Linked DNA regions of Homo sapiens: all the other regions are linked to region 1. Evidence: fine-mapped expression QTL. A gene starts in region 1. Each other region holds a variant in brackets. All regions are shown on one strand. Distances are between the middles of the regions.

Region 1 (5,218 bases):
AGAGAGCAGTGAGTAACTGCCCTGCACGGCTCCCACAGCCCCTGTGTTCCCCAGAAATGAACATGCAAGAAAGAAACTGGATTTCCCTGTAAGTAGCATATTTTCTTACTATTTTGGCATAGTCTGATTTTATAGTGTGGTTTAAGATACTGGGAAAAGGAGAATGATTACAGCAAGGCCATTGTTTATATAATAGAGTCTGCATCTTATAAACTTAACTGTAACAATCATACTTTTTTTTGAAAATAGTATTTTTATGGTGCCAACGGTGCCACGGGTCTTTTTATGAGTGTGAGAAATTTGCTAAAGTTAACCAGAGACTATAAACTAGTCTCTTCCATAATACGAATGTCTTAATCCAGCATTGCACGGTTTTTCTCCTTAAAATGATCCCTCGGAAAGGAGACAATTACTTTACACGTAAGTCTTTGTAAAGCCTCCCACATTGCAGTGGGTTCTCCCAGTTCTTTTATTTTAAAGAGCAAATTACTACTTGAGAAAATGTAGAGTCTGAAAAACTCTGATCAATAAAATTGTAGATGATTATGAAAGTTCACCTCATCAGTTAAAAAAAGAAGAAATATAACACAATTTAAAAATTGTTCCGGCTGGACATGGTAGCTCATACCTACAATCTCAGCACTTTGGGAGGCTGAGGCAGATGGACGGCTTGAGCCCAGGAGTTCACGACCAGACTGGGCAACATAGCAAGACCCTGTCTCTACAAAAAATAGAAAATTTTGCCGAGTGCGGCGATGCGTGTTGGTAGTCCTAGCACTTTAGGAGGCTGAAGTGGGAGAATCGCTTGAGCCTGAGAAGTGGAGGTTGCAGTGAACCTACATCACACCACTACACTCCAGCCTGGGTGTCAGAGCAAGACCCTGTCTCAAAAAAAAAAAAAGATTGTTCCTGGAAGTATTTCCCAGAGTGCACTCTAGGCAGGAACATGTTAATCAACAGCTTTGTCATCAAGTTCATATGCGCACAACCAACCAGGACAAAAGGAAAGCCAGGGCTGCATGATGTGTGAGCACGGCCGACGGCTGCAGGAGGTACAGACACGGCCCCGAGGGGTGTGAGTGCGGATGACCACGGCCGACTGCTGCAGGAGGTACAGGCATGGCCCAGAGGGGTGTGAGTGCGGAGGCGCTGCGCCCGCTCATTCCCACACCCCCTCTGCTGCCTCCACCGGCACAGAGCTGGGCAGCCAGGGGCTCCCCTCCAGCCTCCCTTCGGCAGGGTGGCCGCTGGCACAACCACCTGTAGCTGTGTTGCCAGGGCTTCAGGTACCTGCAGGTGAACACCCCATTAGGTGACACACAAGTGCTTAATAAGTCTGACCGTCTATGCATTCCGGCTAGTTGGAAACCTTTTCCTAAAATCAAAAGCAGACACGTGCTGAGCCTGGCGGCTCCCTACCTTCTGCTTTTCTTTGGCTTATCAAACCGGAAGTCCGCGGGGTACAGGTGCATCCTCACCATGTGATCCTTCCGGTCTCTGCTGGTCTTGAACTTCTCTGTGCAGCCTTCTACCAAGCACTGATACTGAAATGGAGACCGTGTCACCTCCCTCTGACCCCTGGCCCTCCCCCACCGCCATGCCCCCGTAGCAGAGCTGCCAAGGGCGGAAAGGTGTCCCCGGCCTTGCCCGAGCACCCGAGAGCTGGGGGCAGCACTCTGAGCCCATCACCAATGGGGGGTGGCCTCGGCGGCTGTGCAGTTGTCACCCACCATGTCCTGCCTCTCAGACAGGATCTGGAAGAGCGAATCGTGCCACTCCAGGATGTGGGCGTCCAGCAGGTGTCCGGAAGGGAAGGCCCGCTTGCAAAAGGAGCAAACATTTCCGTGCAGCGTGTGGTAGTGGTGCTCGTAGTCGTCCAGGGCATCGAACACCTGGCAGCAGCCGGCCACCTGGCAGGCAAACGCGGGCACCCTGCCAAGGAGACGTGCTTCAGGAGCCCTTCCTCCGGTGCGAGGAACCAAGCTGGACTTTCTGCACAGTTTCCCTTTGAGACGTCCAATAAAGCCCCTATGCATCTTTTGCAATCCCAAACCCTCTTTTTATGAATTAAGTTTCACAAACAGGCTAGGTGGTGGAAGAGTCGGCCACGCCAAAGCTGGACAGGCACAGCGCCTCGGTGGGGCGGCCGCACATGGAAGAGCGGCAGCACAGCCCCAGGGACCAGGCACCGGTCAGGGAGGCGGCGCAGGAGTAGCACTGGCTAGGCACTGCCCATTCGCTTACCTGGGCTTCTCAGGCACGTCGGCCACCTGCATGATCACGTCCTGGAGGTAGAGGTGGCGCTGCACGTCCCCATCCTGCAGGAAAAGTGCGCCGTGGGCGGGGCCAGGTGACTCGCGGCACGCCCACCGCGTCAGGCCTCGCCCACACCCGTGGCCCCAGTCATCCCGCGCTCCGGTCCCGCCCCACAGCCTCAGGCCCCGCCCACTCCACGTTCCGGCCCCGCCCCACCACCTCAGGTCCCGCCTGTCCCAGGCTCCGGCCCCGCCCCGCAGTCGTAGGCCCCTCCCACTCCAGGCTCCGGCCCCGCCTCGCCGCCGTAGGCCCCACTGGATCCTACAACTACTTTTTCCCTCTTTTGCTCACGCACCTCGAAGAACTGGTGCTCCCGCGGGAAGCGCACGGGGCGCGCAACGAAGCGAAAGGGCGCGGCCCCAGCCGCGGGATCCCGCTCTACAGGCAGCGGCTCCGCCGCCCCGGGCCCCGCAGCGAGGCGGGCGCACAGCGCGGGGGGCAACTGCATCACCCCGGGCGCGGGCGGGCGCAGCCTGTCGGCCACCGTCCGCGAGCCGAGCCGGACGTGACGTCACGCTCACTTCCGCCGCCGTCGGGGGCTGCGCGGGGGCTGTGGCTCCGGGACTGCGGTGAGTCCTGGCCGAACGCGGGCGCGGGCGTGATGAGGGGGTTGGGGGACTGCCAGGCCCGGGGGGGCCCACGAGGCGACGGGGCTGGCGGGACGCGGCTCTTCCCGCGCGCTCCCTCTGGCTGTGCAGCGGTCCCCGAACTCTGGGGCCGAAGCCCTTCGGGCCTGCACCGGCCAGGCCAGCGTCTTGCCCCGCGGCCCGACACTCAGCCGGGGCGGGGCGGAGCGGGCCTCCGGGTCGTCCCGGGTGTCCCCTCCCAGCCCTGGGAAGCCGGGTCGCAGGTCCCCCTCTCGCACGCCCTCTCCCGTCCGCCTTGCCCCGCCTGTCGTCTCCCGCTGCAGTCCCTGGATCTTGTTCCCTCTAAACCAGTCGCGAACTGGAGCCAAAGTGACTCCAGTTTTATTGTAACCGTTTTTAATTTAAAGCCCTTGGGTGACTTCCCGTTACTTTAGTTCAAAGGCCCTTTCCTGGTTTGTCGGGGTCCTGTCGACCTCTCCAGTCCCCGCAGCTCCCGTGAAACACAGGACCTGTGCTAGGTGCTCAGGGCGTGTGGGGGAAGGCATCACAGGAGGGCGCGGCAGCCTTGTAGGAGAGACAGACGTCAGAGTAAAGAGTCACCTAATTAAAATGGTGAATGACAACACACGCGGGAAGCAGTGGACGCTTCAGATCTACTGCAGAGAATGGGCCCAGTGGCGGATAGAGGCTTTAGCTTTCTCGTCTGTCACCCAGGCTGGAGTGCAATGGTGCGATCATAGCTGATAGATCGCTGCGGCCTCAAATTCTTGGGCTCAAGTGGTCCTGCTGCCTCAGCGTTCCAAAGAGCTGTAACTGCAGGCGTGAGCCACCATGCCTGCCCCTGTACTTTTTCCATGTTTAGATACACAAATATCTCTGTGTTACAGTTGTCTAGTGTTCAGCACCGCCACCTGCTGGGCAGGTTTGTAGCCCACGAGCAAGAGGCTCCTCTAGGTGGTTTAGGTGCATTGTAGGCCGTACACCATCCAGGTCTGCGAGTGACTCTGATGATCGCACAGAAGGAAATCATGTAACCATACGTTTCTCTTTTTTTCTTTTGGAGATAGTGTCTCTCTCTGTCGCTCAGGCTGGAGTGCAGTGGCGCGATCTGGGCTCACTGCAACCTCTGCCTGCTGGGTTCAAGCGATTCTCGTGCCTCAGCTTCCCAAGTAGCTGGGATTACAAGTGTGCGCCACCAGGCTTGGCCAATTTTTGTATTTTTGGTAGAGACTGGTTTTCACCATGTTGGCCAGGCATTTCTCAGAATGTTGAGTGATGCATGACTGTACTTTCTGTCTCTGTAAAAGCCTTTGGGCTCTTGACATTTTCCACAAGTTGTAAAATAACATTTTTCAAACCAATTTGTACAGTTAGCTTTGAGCTCTCAACAGAGACTCTTTTTCACGTCCCTCTGTGTTTTAATCACTTGGAGTGTGTGCTCACTAGGAGTGTGTGCCCCGCTTGTCCGTGGTGGAGTGTGACATGCGTGCATTGCTTCCCTCAGCACGCGTCCCTGCGGTAGCTCACAGCCTCTGTGAGGAGGACGTCAGTCCCTCCCAGTCACAGTTGCTGGGCCTGTCAGTTTGTGTGATTAATAGTAAGAATTCAGGAGCATCAAGAAGGCCAAGTCAGCGGCCATGGCTAGACGTTCCTCCAAGAAGCAGCCACGGCTAGATGTTCCTCAGAGCTGTGTTTTCAGTGGGACGCTGTGCATTTCTGGCGGGACAGCTCTGTTGATGATTAGCATCCCCCGCCCTTGCCCTCTAAGTAGCGAGAGCACCCTTCCATGACCGTGACACCCCAGAGTTGCCCTAGGACTTTTCCAAAGGTCTTCTGGGGGGAGGGACTCTGTGCGAGTACGGGCTGCCCTCTTGGAGGCCCGGTCCCCACATTCAGGGAGAGCAGCAGGCTCCTCATGGGATGAACACTCATGACGTGCGGGCATCTGTGCTTCTATTTCTAGAAGAGATACGAAGTTTCCTGAAGGTAGTTTTTATTTTTTTTATTATTATTTTTTGAGACAGAGTCTCGCTCTGTTGCCCAGGCTGGAATGCAGTGGTGTGATCTTGGCTCACTGCAAGCTCCGCCTCTCGGGTTCATGCCATTCTCCTGCCCCAGCCTCTGGAGTATCTGCGACTACAAGCGCCCGCCACCACCCCCGGCTAATTTTTTTGTATTTTTAGTAGAGATGGGGTTTCACCATGTTAGCCAGGATGGTCTCGATCTCCTGACCTCATGATCCGCCCACCTTGGCTTCCCAAAGTGCTGAGATTACAGGCGTGAGCCACCGTGCCCAGCATGTAGTTTTTAAATAA
Region 2 (5,218 bases), 57 kb before region 1:
CCATGACAGTTCTTGCTTGTGATTCGTGTCCATGGCAGAGAGGGAACATGGTGACCCTGGGTGGCACTGGGAGCTCTGCACACTGCCATCTCACTGGCCATGGAGGTCACATGGCCTGGGTTCAGGGTGGGGAGTCAGACCCCCCACCCAGGCCCGTGAGAAGGGCCTGGGCTCTTGGCAAAAAGCAACACCCTCTAACCCCAGGGTTCTCCTGGTAGGAAGGGTGGGCCCAGGCCGAGCAGCCAGGAGGGAGCTGAGACCCTGAGGGGAGCAGCTGCACTCAGGGTGCCCTTCGCTGCCCTCTGAGTTGGACGAGGCCGATTCTGAGGCCTGGAGCTGTGAGCTCGGTGCATTTGTTTCGGGTCTGATCCCTAGAACAGCTGCTACTATAAGGGACCAGTGCCTGGGGTCAGGGAGGCCTATAAGCTTCTAATATGTTGACCACAGAGGCTGGGGAGGGCCCTACAGAGTCATCACCTTGATCTAATGTCAGGGTGTTGGGGGAGTGTAGTGTCCAGCCCTACGGGGCTTAGCAGGTGTTCTCCCCATGTGCGGAGACGAGAGATTGTAAGAAATAAAGACACAAGACAAAGAGATAAAGAGAAAACAGCTGGGCCTGGGGGACCAATACCATCAAGAGGCGGAGACCGGTAGTGGCCCCGAATGGCTGGGCGCACTGATATTTATTGCATACAGGACGAGGGGGCAGGGTGAGGACGGTGAATCCTCTAAGTGATTGACAAGGTGAAGCAAGTCACGTGATCATGGGACAGGGGGCCCTTCCCTCTTAGGTAGCCGAAGCAGAGAGGGAAGGCAGCATATGTCAGCATTTTCTTCTATGCACTTACAAGAAAGATCAAAGACTTTAAGACTTTCACTCTTTCTTCTTCCACTATCTGCTACGAACTTCAAAGAGGAACCAGGAGTACGGGAGGAGCATGAAAGTGGACAAGGAGTGTGATCGTTGAAGCACCACAGGGAGGGGGTTAGGCCTCCGGATGACTGCGGGCAGGCCTGGAGAATATCCAGCCTCTCACAAGAAGCTGGTGGAGCAGTGTTCCCTGACTCCTCCAAGGAAAGGAGACTCCCTTTCATGGTCTGCTAAGTAATGGTTGCCTTCCCAGACACTGGCGTTACTGCTTGACCAAGGAGCCCTCAAGCGGCCCTTATGCAGGTGTGACAGAAGGCTCACCTCTTGCCTTCTAGGTCTCTTCTCACAATGTGCCTTCAGCACCTGACCCTATACCCGCCAGTTATTTCTTGGTTATATTAGTAATACAACAAAGAGTAATATTAAGAGCTAATGATTAATAATGTTTATACTAATGATTGATAATGTCCATGATCATCTCTATATCTAATTTGTATTATAACTATTGTTATTCTAACTATTTTCTTTATTATACCGAAACAGTTTGTGCCTTCAGTCTCTTGCCTCGGCACCTAGGTAATCCTTTGCCCACAGGGGAGCACCAGATGTGGGGCCTGAGCTTGAAAAGGGGCTGCTGCCCCTGATGTTCCCGGGCTCTTGTGCTGCCTGGCCTCTGACCCCTGGACCTAGTCTCAGGGCCTATCTTAAGCCCCTTGGAATTTGCTGGCTGCACAGCTGTGATGTCTTCTTGGGTTCACTCATCACAGTGCCAGCCATGACCAGCCCCTCCCTGCAGGTGCGGGCGGCACCCAGAGACTCACCCGTGCTGTTGGGAAGTCGCTGGCGATGGAGATGGTCCTCACTGGTGACCGGATCTCAGCCCAGGACGCCAAGCAAGCAGGTATGGGTTGGGGCTGCCCGCAAGAGCCACCTGGAAACCCGGGGTGGGAGCCCCACAGAAACCCAGGGCGGCATCCAGGTGTCCCCCTCGGGGGAGCCCCACAGAAACCCGGGGCAGCATCCAGGTGTCCCCCTCATGGGTGCCCCACAGAAACCCTGAGCTGCATCCAGTTGTCTCCCTCGTGGGAGCCCCACAGAAACCCAGAGCTGCATCCAGGTGTCCCCCATGGGGGAGCCCCACAGAAACCCAGGGCGGCATCCAGGTGTCCCCCTCGTGGGAGCCCCACAGAAACCCCGGGCAGCATCCAAGTGCCCCCACGGTGGTTGCATGAGCTTTTGGGTCCTGAGGACCTGGGAGAAGACTGACTGCCTTTTGTTTCTACATTTTGAAGTACTGTATGTACGGAAGTGAACCACACGTAAGTATCTGGTACAGAATAACAGCCCAGCAATTGCGTCCCCAAAATGCAGTGTAAGCAATGGGCATCTCCAGGCCTCAGTGGCCGGTCCTCCCACTGCCCTGTTGGTGATCACAGTCCCCGTGTCTGGCCGCCTCTGCCGTCGGAGCTGTGGCCAGCCTGGCCCACATGTCTGAGAGCACAGTGACCGCAGTGCCGAGATCACTCAGCACTCAGGAAGGGGCACGTGCGGCACTTCCCGTGTGGAAGCCGCCCTTGCTTAGCGTCCAGAGGCTGGGGTGCTCCAGCCACGCTGCTCCCCAGCGGCCACTCACTCGAGAAGGGATAGACAAGTGCTGTTTCTGCACATCACTCACTGACTTTCTTGTGTTTCAGGTCTTGTCAGCAAGATTTGTCCTGTTGAGACACTGGTGGAAGAAGCCATCCAGTGTGCAGAAAAAATTGCCAGCAATTCTAAAATTGTAGTAGCGATGGCCAAAGAATCAGTGAATGCAGGTAGGGGATCTGCCAGGAAGACACTGGAGAGGTCTCCGTGGCTGTCAGGAGCATTCCTCAGCAGCAGGCTTTCTGGCTCCAAATGAATATGCCTTAAGCCCTCCTGGGCAGAAATGCTTCTCAGTGTCTCAGTTCTGCTGTCTGTAGAGTCGTGGTTTCTGGTCACGCACTCAGGAACTCCGCTGAGATGTTCCCAGCTCCCCTTTGTACCAGGGCCCAAGAACTGAGCCAGGCCTGGGAGGTGAGGGCAGTACAGAGCTGGCAGTGGCAGGGAAAGGCTGAGAAGGGAGCAGAGGTCCCAAATGTAAAATGGTCTCTGCCATGGGGAGGCTCGGTTCACCTCCCGAGACCTGGGGTTGGCGGCTG[C/T]GTGTGCGCCTGGCAGGTGGCTACGCAGGCTTGCAGCCCAGCACCACGCTGTTCGTTCTTGGCCTGGATCCCTTTTAGTTCTCCCTCTGCCAGGGAAGTGGATCTGAACCTCCCCCTCCTCAGAAATGCTCAAGTTTTAATGTCACAATTTATTCTCAGCATGTGGAATGAGATGGTTATTAGCTGGTTGAGTCCGGACAGGTGTGGGTGGCCCCAGGCAGGTCCCCTAACCTCTCTGAGTGCATTTATCTCGAGGGTGTGGCCGTCCCCCGGGCTTGCCGTTGGCTTGAGGCAGGATACAGTGAGGAGAGCATTTTGAAAGAACGGAGGCTGCTGTCGCCCGAGGTGTTTGGCAAGGTCGTGCTCCCCTGGGAGAGGATGCTGGCACCAGCCCTGGAGCCACAGCGCCTGCCTCCATCTGCGCACCTGGATCTGCTCTGCTTGGCCTCGTGCAAAGAACGGGCCTGGAATGAGCAGAGCCAAAGGCGTTCTTGGTGCCGGCCGCGCCCAGCTCTGGCTCTCGTGCTGTCCTTCCTGGTTTTCATCCTTGGTTATTTTTCTCTGTTTGCAGCCCCGTTGCCGCCTCACAGCCTCTCCTCAAGGGCACAGTTTGCCATCTCACCTTTCATCCAGTTCCTCTCCCTTCTTGGGGCCGTGGGCTACCGGAGTGTGACGTTTGGGGGCCATAGCAGAGCTGTTGGTTCTGCCAGGTCTCCGCTGGGGCAGTGCCTTTGAGAAGGGCGGCACCATGGAAGCCTGTGCAGGGCTGGGCCACGTCGAAAGCACAGTTGTGCATGGGTCAGTGAGGAGGGCTTCCTGTCACCGTGCAGGAAAAGTTCTGCATGTAATATCTCCGTTCATAACTCTGGGACTTTGTTTTTCAGCTTTTGAAATGACATTAACAGAAGGAAGTAAGTTGGAGAAGAAACTCTTTTATTCAACCTTTGCCACTGTGAGTAAACAGTGTTCAACCGGAGAATCAAGCAAATTCCAGTCACACAAGTTGCTGGGAATTTCCTTTTAAATTTTATCATTAAGTATCGTTTCTTTCTGGTCAGAACTGCCAGCCTCACCTTTAACGGGATCAGATTGGTTCCATCAGTGGGTCTTGATGTTAGGAAAAAAGTAGAGCATGTACAAGTTCAAAAGTACAGAAACCTTACAGGGGCTTTTCTTGTTTTTCCTGTTATGTGAGGTCTGTGAATTGCACCCTCAAGCAGCTCCTTTATTGAAAATGCAGTTTCAGCCGGGTGGGTGTCGAGCATCCGTAGCCCCAGCTTCCTGGGAGGCTGAGGCGGGTCGTTCGAGTCCAACTGGGCAGCAAAGCAAGACCCCGTCTCAAAAAAAAGACTTTTTTAAAAAATGAGGCCGGGCGCGGTGGCTCACCCTGTAATCCCAGCACTTTGGGAGGCTGAGGCGGGTGGATTGCCTGAGCTCAGGAGTTTGAAACCAGCCTGGGCAACATGACGAAACCCGTCTCTACTAAAAATCCAAAAAATTAGCCGGGCGTGGTGGCAGGTGCCTGTAATCCCAGCTACTCTGGAAGTTGAGGCAGGAGAATCGCTTGAACCCAGAGGCGGAGATTACAGTGAGCCGAGATCACGCCACTGCACTCCAGCCTGGGAGACAGAGTGAGACTCTGTCTGAAAAAAAAAATGTAACTCATTTTACCCATGTTTTTTTAGATCATTCCAATTATTTGGAATAGGCTCAAATGTATTCTAATAAGATAAGCTGAAGCTTTAGAGCAATATTTTATAAGATTTCTGCCAGTAACTTAAAGTAATTCCTCTAATTACCATCATAATTTTAATTTTCTTCCCTTTGAGGCAGAGTCTTGCTCGGTCGTCCAGGCTGGAATGCAGTGGTGAGATCTCAGCTCACTGCAACCTCCACCTCCTGGGTTCAAGTGATTCTCCTGCTTCAGCCTCCCGAGTAGCTGGGATTACAGGTGCCCACCACCACACCTGGCTAATTTTTGTATTTTTAGTAGAGACAGAGTTTCACCATGTTGGCCAGGCTGGTCTTGAACTCCTGACCTCAAGTGATCTGCCTGCCTCGGCCTCCCACAGTGCTGGGATTATAGGCGTGAGCCACTGCACCCGGCCAGATTACCATTTTAATTCATGTCTTTCACTGGGAGAAAGTCATACTTCGGTGTTTTAAT
Region 3 (5,218 bases), 140 kb after region 1:
ACCGTCGGCGTGCTGCCCAGAGCAGGTGTCGGCTCCTGGAGCCTGGGCACGGGGCCTTCCTCCCGGAGGCTCGGCCAGAGCTGCTGGGTCACCTGCTCCGTGGAGCACCCCGACCCCGCAGGCTCACGGCTGGACTGGCCTGTGGAGGCTGCCAACAGATGAGCGAGGCGACGGAGTGGACATCCCCAACTGTGGACTCGTGCAGAGCTAACGGGGCGTGATCCTGACACTCACATGACTTACAACCACACGCGCTGCCAACATTTGTTCCAGGCAATTCACACGGAGGACACAGTCACGGCGGTTCCCTCCATGTGGCTCGGCCGCCCCCATGTGGGCTCACCTCCAAATCCGAGTGGGCTCCTGGACTCCGCGAGGGCTCAGCTGTGATCACGATGGTTGCCACCAACACCCACACCCCCCCCATGCACATGCACAAACATACCCACCTAGCACACGTGCTCACCCTCACACAGACACACGCATCCCCATACATGCATCCCACATGGACACACGCCAACACAGGGCACGCTCACACAGTAACACTCGGACGCTGGTGCAAGGTGTGTGCACACTCACAGTTCCATCCGCTTCACACACACACACTCATGCAATGAGAACAGACATCCTCATACACACACACACCTCACACTCACACACATACTACATGCCACCGCACACATGCCTAACACTGACCATATGCACGCACAGACATGCACACCCGCACACACCCATTCCCACACTTGGTGCACACACCCTCACAGGAACACACAAGGCTGCACAATCCACACTCGCACGCACCCGAGTATGGAGCTGAAGGCCCTCTTGGGTGTGCTGCTCCCCGGCCGGGGCACCCCATGTGCAGGTAGGAGGGGGTGGCCGGGGGCTGCAGCCTGGACACTATGGGTGGGGCCCGTGAGGAGGAGGCAGAGGCCCCTTCTCCCCCATCGCTGGCCCCCCCTCCCCCAGTGCACAGGGCGGCTCTGGCTGTACTGGAGCCACTGGGCTGATGTCCTGAGAGGCACCTCCTGCCTCCGGTCCCCCTACCCTGCCCCAGCGGCTGGCACTGCAAGAGGCCCCCCAGGCACAGGAAAGGGATGAAGGGCTCAAACCAAAGCAGGAGGCCAACAAACGACGGGATCAGGGCATGGGCGCCCGGTGGGGCCTGGCCATGGGGCTGGCTCTGCGTCTGTTCGTGGGGTCCTGGCACATCCCGTCCATCTCCTTCTTGCGGTCCAGGGAGGGGCTTGATGACATCATTTCCCAGGCCCTTCCAGCTCTTTCTATGGCGGGAATCTCCCTGCCCCATTCCTGTGGCCCGTGATCGATCAAAGGTGTTTGATTTGGGCTCAAGCCTGCCGCCCTCTTAGCACCGCCCAGGACTCCTCAGGACTCCAGAGAGCCCGAAGCTCCCAGCGACGCCTGTGAGGCTGGTTAAAGAGGTACCTGGGCACTGCGTACACACAAACACATGCACACACCCATGCACCTGCACACGCAGGCGCACACATATGTACACACTCCCGTGCACTGGCACACACATGCACACAGCGCAACATGCCCACGCACACGTGCCTGCAAACACGGGCACAGACGTGCACCAAGCGGTAAGTCAGTCTGAGGACCCCGTAGGTTGTGCTGCTTAGGAGGAAGGGAGTCAGCATGAGGCGCGTCTCAGCCGGTCCCCGTCCCCCTGCGGGGCCCTGGGGTGCCTCTGGCTGTCACTCACAGGTCAGGCGCCTGCCGCCAGCCCACAGAATGGTGTCGAGACACGTGGACCCGGGAAGGGAGCCCAGGTCAGCCGTGCCAGCAGGGCCACCACTCGCACACAGCACGCCCTCCTGCTCAGACCTGGAGGGGAGATGCCTGGTGATGGGCAGCCCCCTCCTCCCCTCAGGGAAGCCGGACACCTGGAGCCCCAGCACCCATGAGAGGTGGGCGTGTCTGAATTCCGTCGGAGATTCTCTGGATGACTTTAGCGGTGAATTCCATGGGGTCTGTGGCTGAAGCCTCCCCTCAGGGATAGGATGGTCTCAGCCTCTCTGGGGCTTTCCAGAGGGTGGGCTTCCGCTCACACAGGGTCCTGAGCCCGGCCACCCAGGGGGTCTTGTCATGTGCTGAGGGCTCCCAGGCCTGAACTCTGGGCCCCGGGTCACCTGCCCTCTGGGACCTGCAGCCTCCACCCTGCTCTGGCACAGGTGAGAGGAATTAGCCCTCCTTGCCCGAATCCACACTGGCTGGGTGAGCAAGGGGGGGTCAGACAGGCCTAAGAGGCCAGGACAGGACGAGAGGACTGGGAGAGACACAGGCAGCACTCAGCAGCCTGGGGATCCCACGTCCTTGGGCTCCCCCCGCCACATCCCAGCAGACAACCCCACGACCACCCTCAAGGTCGGGAGCTATCTGGGCGTCCTGTAGTCCTGAGCTGTGGGCGTCCTGTAGTCACCTCCAGAAGGG[G/C]CCCTTGGAGACCCCGGGGCTCTCAGCCTTGCTACCAGGTAGGTTCAAGTCCACAGCTGGGCCAGGAAGCTTCGTGCTCAAGTAAAATACGCCCAGCCGGGCTGCGGGGCTGCCGAGGTGGCCTCGACAGGAGTTTAATGGGCTGTGGCAGACACTTGGGAAGGAGGTGACGTGCTGTGAATAGCAACGCCGGCCTCAGCTGGCCGACGCCTGTCTGTCTGCCCAGCGCCGCCTCCTGCGCACCTGTCTGCCCAGCACCCACGAGGGCCCCACGGCAGGCTGGGGCCTCGTGACTTTCCACACTTCAGCCTCTCCTGCCCCTGCCAATACAGTCTGACCTTGTTGTGGCTGGCCAGCTTTCAGTGACTCCGTCTGCCGGCACAGACCCAGCCTCTTGAGCAGGCCCAGAGGGTTCTTCATGACCTAGTCCAGCCCACCGACCACCCACCCTGCCCCTTACCATCCCTAGCAGGGCGTGCCTGGGTGAGCCATGGGGTAGGTCTGAGAGCAGGGACCACCTAAGACCTGTTCCTTGCAGGACAGGAAAGACTGGTCCCCACTTTGCAATTGTGTGGCCACGAACTCCACCCCCAACCCAGGTGGGAGGAGGGATTCGGGAAGGCAGGTGGACATGAACTCCACCCCCATCCCAGGTGGGAGGAGGGATTTGGGAAGGCAGGTGGACATGAACTCCACCCCCATCCCACGTGGGAGGAGGGATTTGGGAAGGCAGGTGGCCACGAACTCCACCCCCATCCCAGGTGGGAGGAGGGATTTGGGAAGGCAGGTGGCCACGAACTCCACCCCCATCCCAGGTGGGAGGAGGGATTTGGGAAGGCAGGTGGACATGAACCCCCGGGACTGGGCTGCTCTCCAGGGCAGCAGCACATCAGCCAGTCCCTGGGTCTCAGAGGGCAGGGCACGCTTCCCACCGAGGACCCTTATCTCATGGCAGGTCCCCATTAGGGGCCCTGTGCATTCAGAAAGCTCCCACACCCCCCGCCACACTGCCAGGCAGACTTCGAGCCAGGGTTACACAGGGACGCCTAGATCGTGTGGCGCATTTGAAATACACTGTCTTATGACCAACTGATTTTTTTCAGCCGTGGGATTCTAACAGGACTAATACAAAACTCCAATCACAGCTGGGAGCACTGGCTGCCAATCCCCAGGCCTCCTGACAGCTCTCTTCACACTGCCAGGCCCCCACCACAAAACCACCTCTGCTCCCGAGGTGCCTTCTGCTCTGAGCTCATCCTGGCACAGATGTCATATGGACCCTGCAGCGGGGACGTCCTCTTCTTTACTGGGAGCCCCCAGCTGTGTGCCCCTCCAGGGAGCAACTGCATCCTGTCCAGCCTCAGATTCTGAGCCCAGCCTGACACCGGCACACAGGAGGTTCTGGGAGGCAGTTGCTGAACTCTGGGAGGGATGATAGTGCTGCCTGCCTCTCAGGGACCCGGGACACGTCCTGCTCTGGCACCCAAACCGGTGCACCCTCTTCGTCTCATCTGAATTCCCATGGGGCAGCCAGCATTGCCCATCCATCGACTCCAGCCGCCTGGACTGTGTGCCTCTTCTGCAGCCGCTGTTCTGCCTGGATTGCACTGTTCTGCCTCAGATCCCATACCCCCATCCACAGTGACTGAAATCTCATGGGAATCCCGGGCAGGACACCTCCAGGAAGCCCTCCTTGCATCACCCCCACAGAACATCTCCCTGTCTATCGTGTACTGGTGGTTCTTTGCCTGTACTGGGATCCAACCTGGTCACTTCCTCCAGGACCTGCTGGCCCACTTGCTGATGCTCTGGTAGGTTCCAGCTGAGAGTGTTCTCACACACGCACGGCCACGTGTCTCTGGGGCCCACACCATAGTGAAGTTGCTGGGACACAGGGCACTGGTGCCTTCTACTTCACCAGCGAATGCTGGGCTGTTTTCCAAAGAGGCTGCTCCATTTGTCCTCCCACTGGCGCGAGGGAGAGCTGCTGCGCCGTCCTTGCCAGCACAAGCCGCTGTCCGCTCTTCAGTTCTTGCCAGCCTGGCGGTCTTGGGAAGGCATTCGTGGGGGTGTATTTTGCATTTTCCTGATTGCAATGAGCAAACATCTTTTCACATGTTCAGCAGCCATTTGGATTTTCTTTGGGACCATGTCAAGGGAGGGACATTCCAGGGGCTCCGGTGGGTGTCCATAGGGGTCTATTTCTTGACCCCATCATGGAGCCAGCCATTATAATTAGCTGTAGAATGAGTGAGTTCCTACATCTTATGAAGCCTGCATATGTCCTGGGCCTGGCGCCACCGTGCTTTCCCGGCAGCTGCCCTGCACCCTTGGCCTTCCGGCATTCTGGGATGATGATGCAACCTCACCGTGCCCTCACCTCACCCAGGACGGTTTTCCCATGCAAGTCAGGTGCCCCGATGGAGATTTCAGAACCTTCCAAGCCAAACACGTGTGGGAAGCAGAGTCTGAACGCCAGGGGAATTCTGAGACATGGGGTGTGTTGGGCTCAGTACTGGGCACAGGGTTGGGCCAGGGACCACCCGATGCTTTCCAGGAGTGTCTGCGAAGGGCCCACCTGAACGTTCCCACTGCACGCTGCAAACTCGGTGGGATGACAGTTCACCTGGAGGCCTTGGTGGACGTCACAGGATGGAGCCACCCACCCCAGTACTGTGCCGGCCGGGAGCTGTCCGGCCGGCCCGAGGACACTGGTGTGTGCGTGGGGGTGGGGAGCGGGAGTGGGGAGTGTGCAGAAAGA

Alleles and levels. Alleles are on the strand shown, and positions count from the first base shown. SD is a standard deviation of normalised expression in the study named. Not every link is listed here.
As copies of C replace T in region 2, the expression in fibroblasts of the gene that starts at base 2,836 in region 1 goes up (small effect, 0.09 SD a copy in GTEx).

The links. PIP is the estimated chance that this variant, and not a neighbour inherited with it, causes the effect.
Region 2: its variant is the best candidate, but not a certain one, in a credible set for the expression of TUBGCP2 in fibroblasts (GTEx, PIP 0.55).
Region 3: its variant is the best candidate, but not a certain one, in a credible set for the expression of TUBGCP2 in whole blood (TOPMed, PIP 0.83).

What each region holds. Positions count from the first base shown.
Region 1 is chr10:133,306,490-133,311,707 of GRCh38, reverse strand. It overlaps TUBGCP2 (tubulin gamma complex component 2), which reads left to right and starts at 2,836. Exons shown (of 18, transcript NM_006659.4): 1 at 2,836-2,885. ZNF511-PRAP1 (ZNF511-PRAP1 readthrough) reads right to left here and starts at 2,794. Exons shown (of 9, transcript NM_001396060.1): 1 at 2,612-2,794; 2 at 2,245-2,318; 3 at 1,731-1,932; 4 at 1,420-1,544. The coding sequence starts at 2,764. It overlaps ZNF511 (zinc finger protein 511), which reads right to left and starts at 2,794. Exons shown (of 6, transcript NM_145806.4): 1 at 2,612-2,794; 2 at 2,245-2,318; 3 at 1,731-1,932; 4 at 1,420-1,544. The coding sequence starts at 2,764. RefSeq lists enhancers at 2,309-2,603, 2,011-2,706, 3,430-3,659 and a silencer at 2,350-3,199.
Region 2 is chr10:133,363,443-133,368,660 of GRCh38, reverse strand. ECHS1 (enoyl-CoA hydratase, short chain 1) reads left to right here. Exons shown (of 8, transcript NM_004092.4): 5 at 1,668-1,772; 6 at 2,566-2,685; 7 at 3,936-4,003. Among named protein-coding and RNA genes, the nearest start is that of MIR3944, 5.6 kb to the left of the region's middle. The variant C/T (reference allele first, on the strand shown) is at 3,052.
Region 3 is chr10:133,161,956-133,167,173 of GRCh38, reverse strand. All of the region lies in intron 1 of KNDC1 (kinase non-catalytic C-lobe domain containing 1), which reads right to left. Among named protein-coding and RNA genes, the nearest start is that of KNDC1, 4.3 kb to the right of the region's middle. RefSeq lists an enhancer at 1,116-1,627. The variant G/C (reference allele first, on the strand shown) is at 2,458.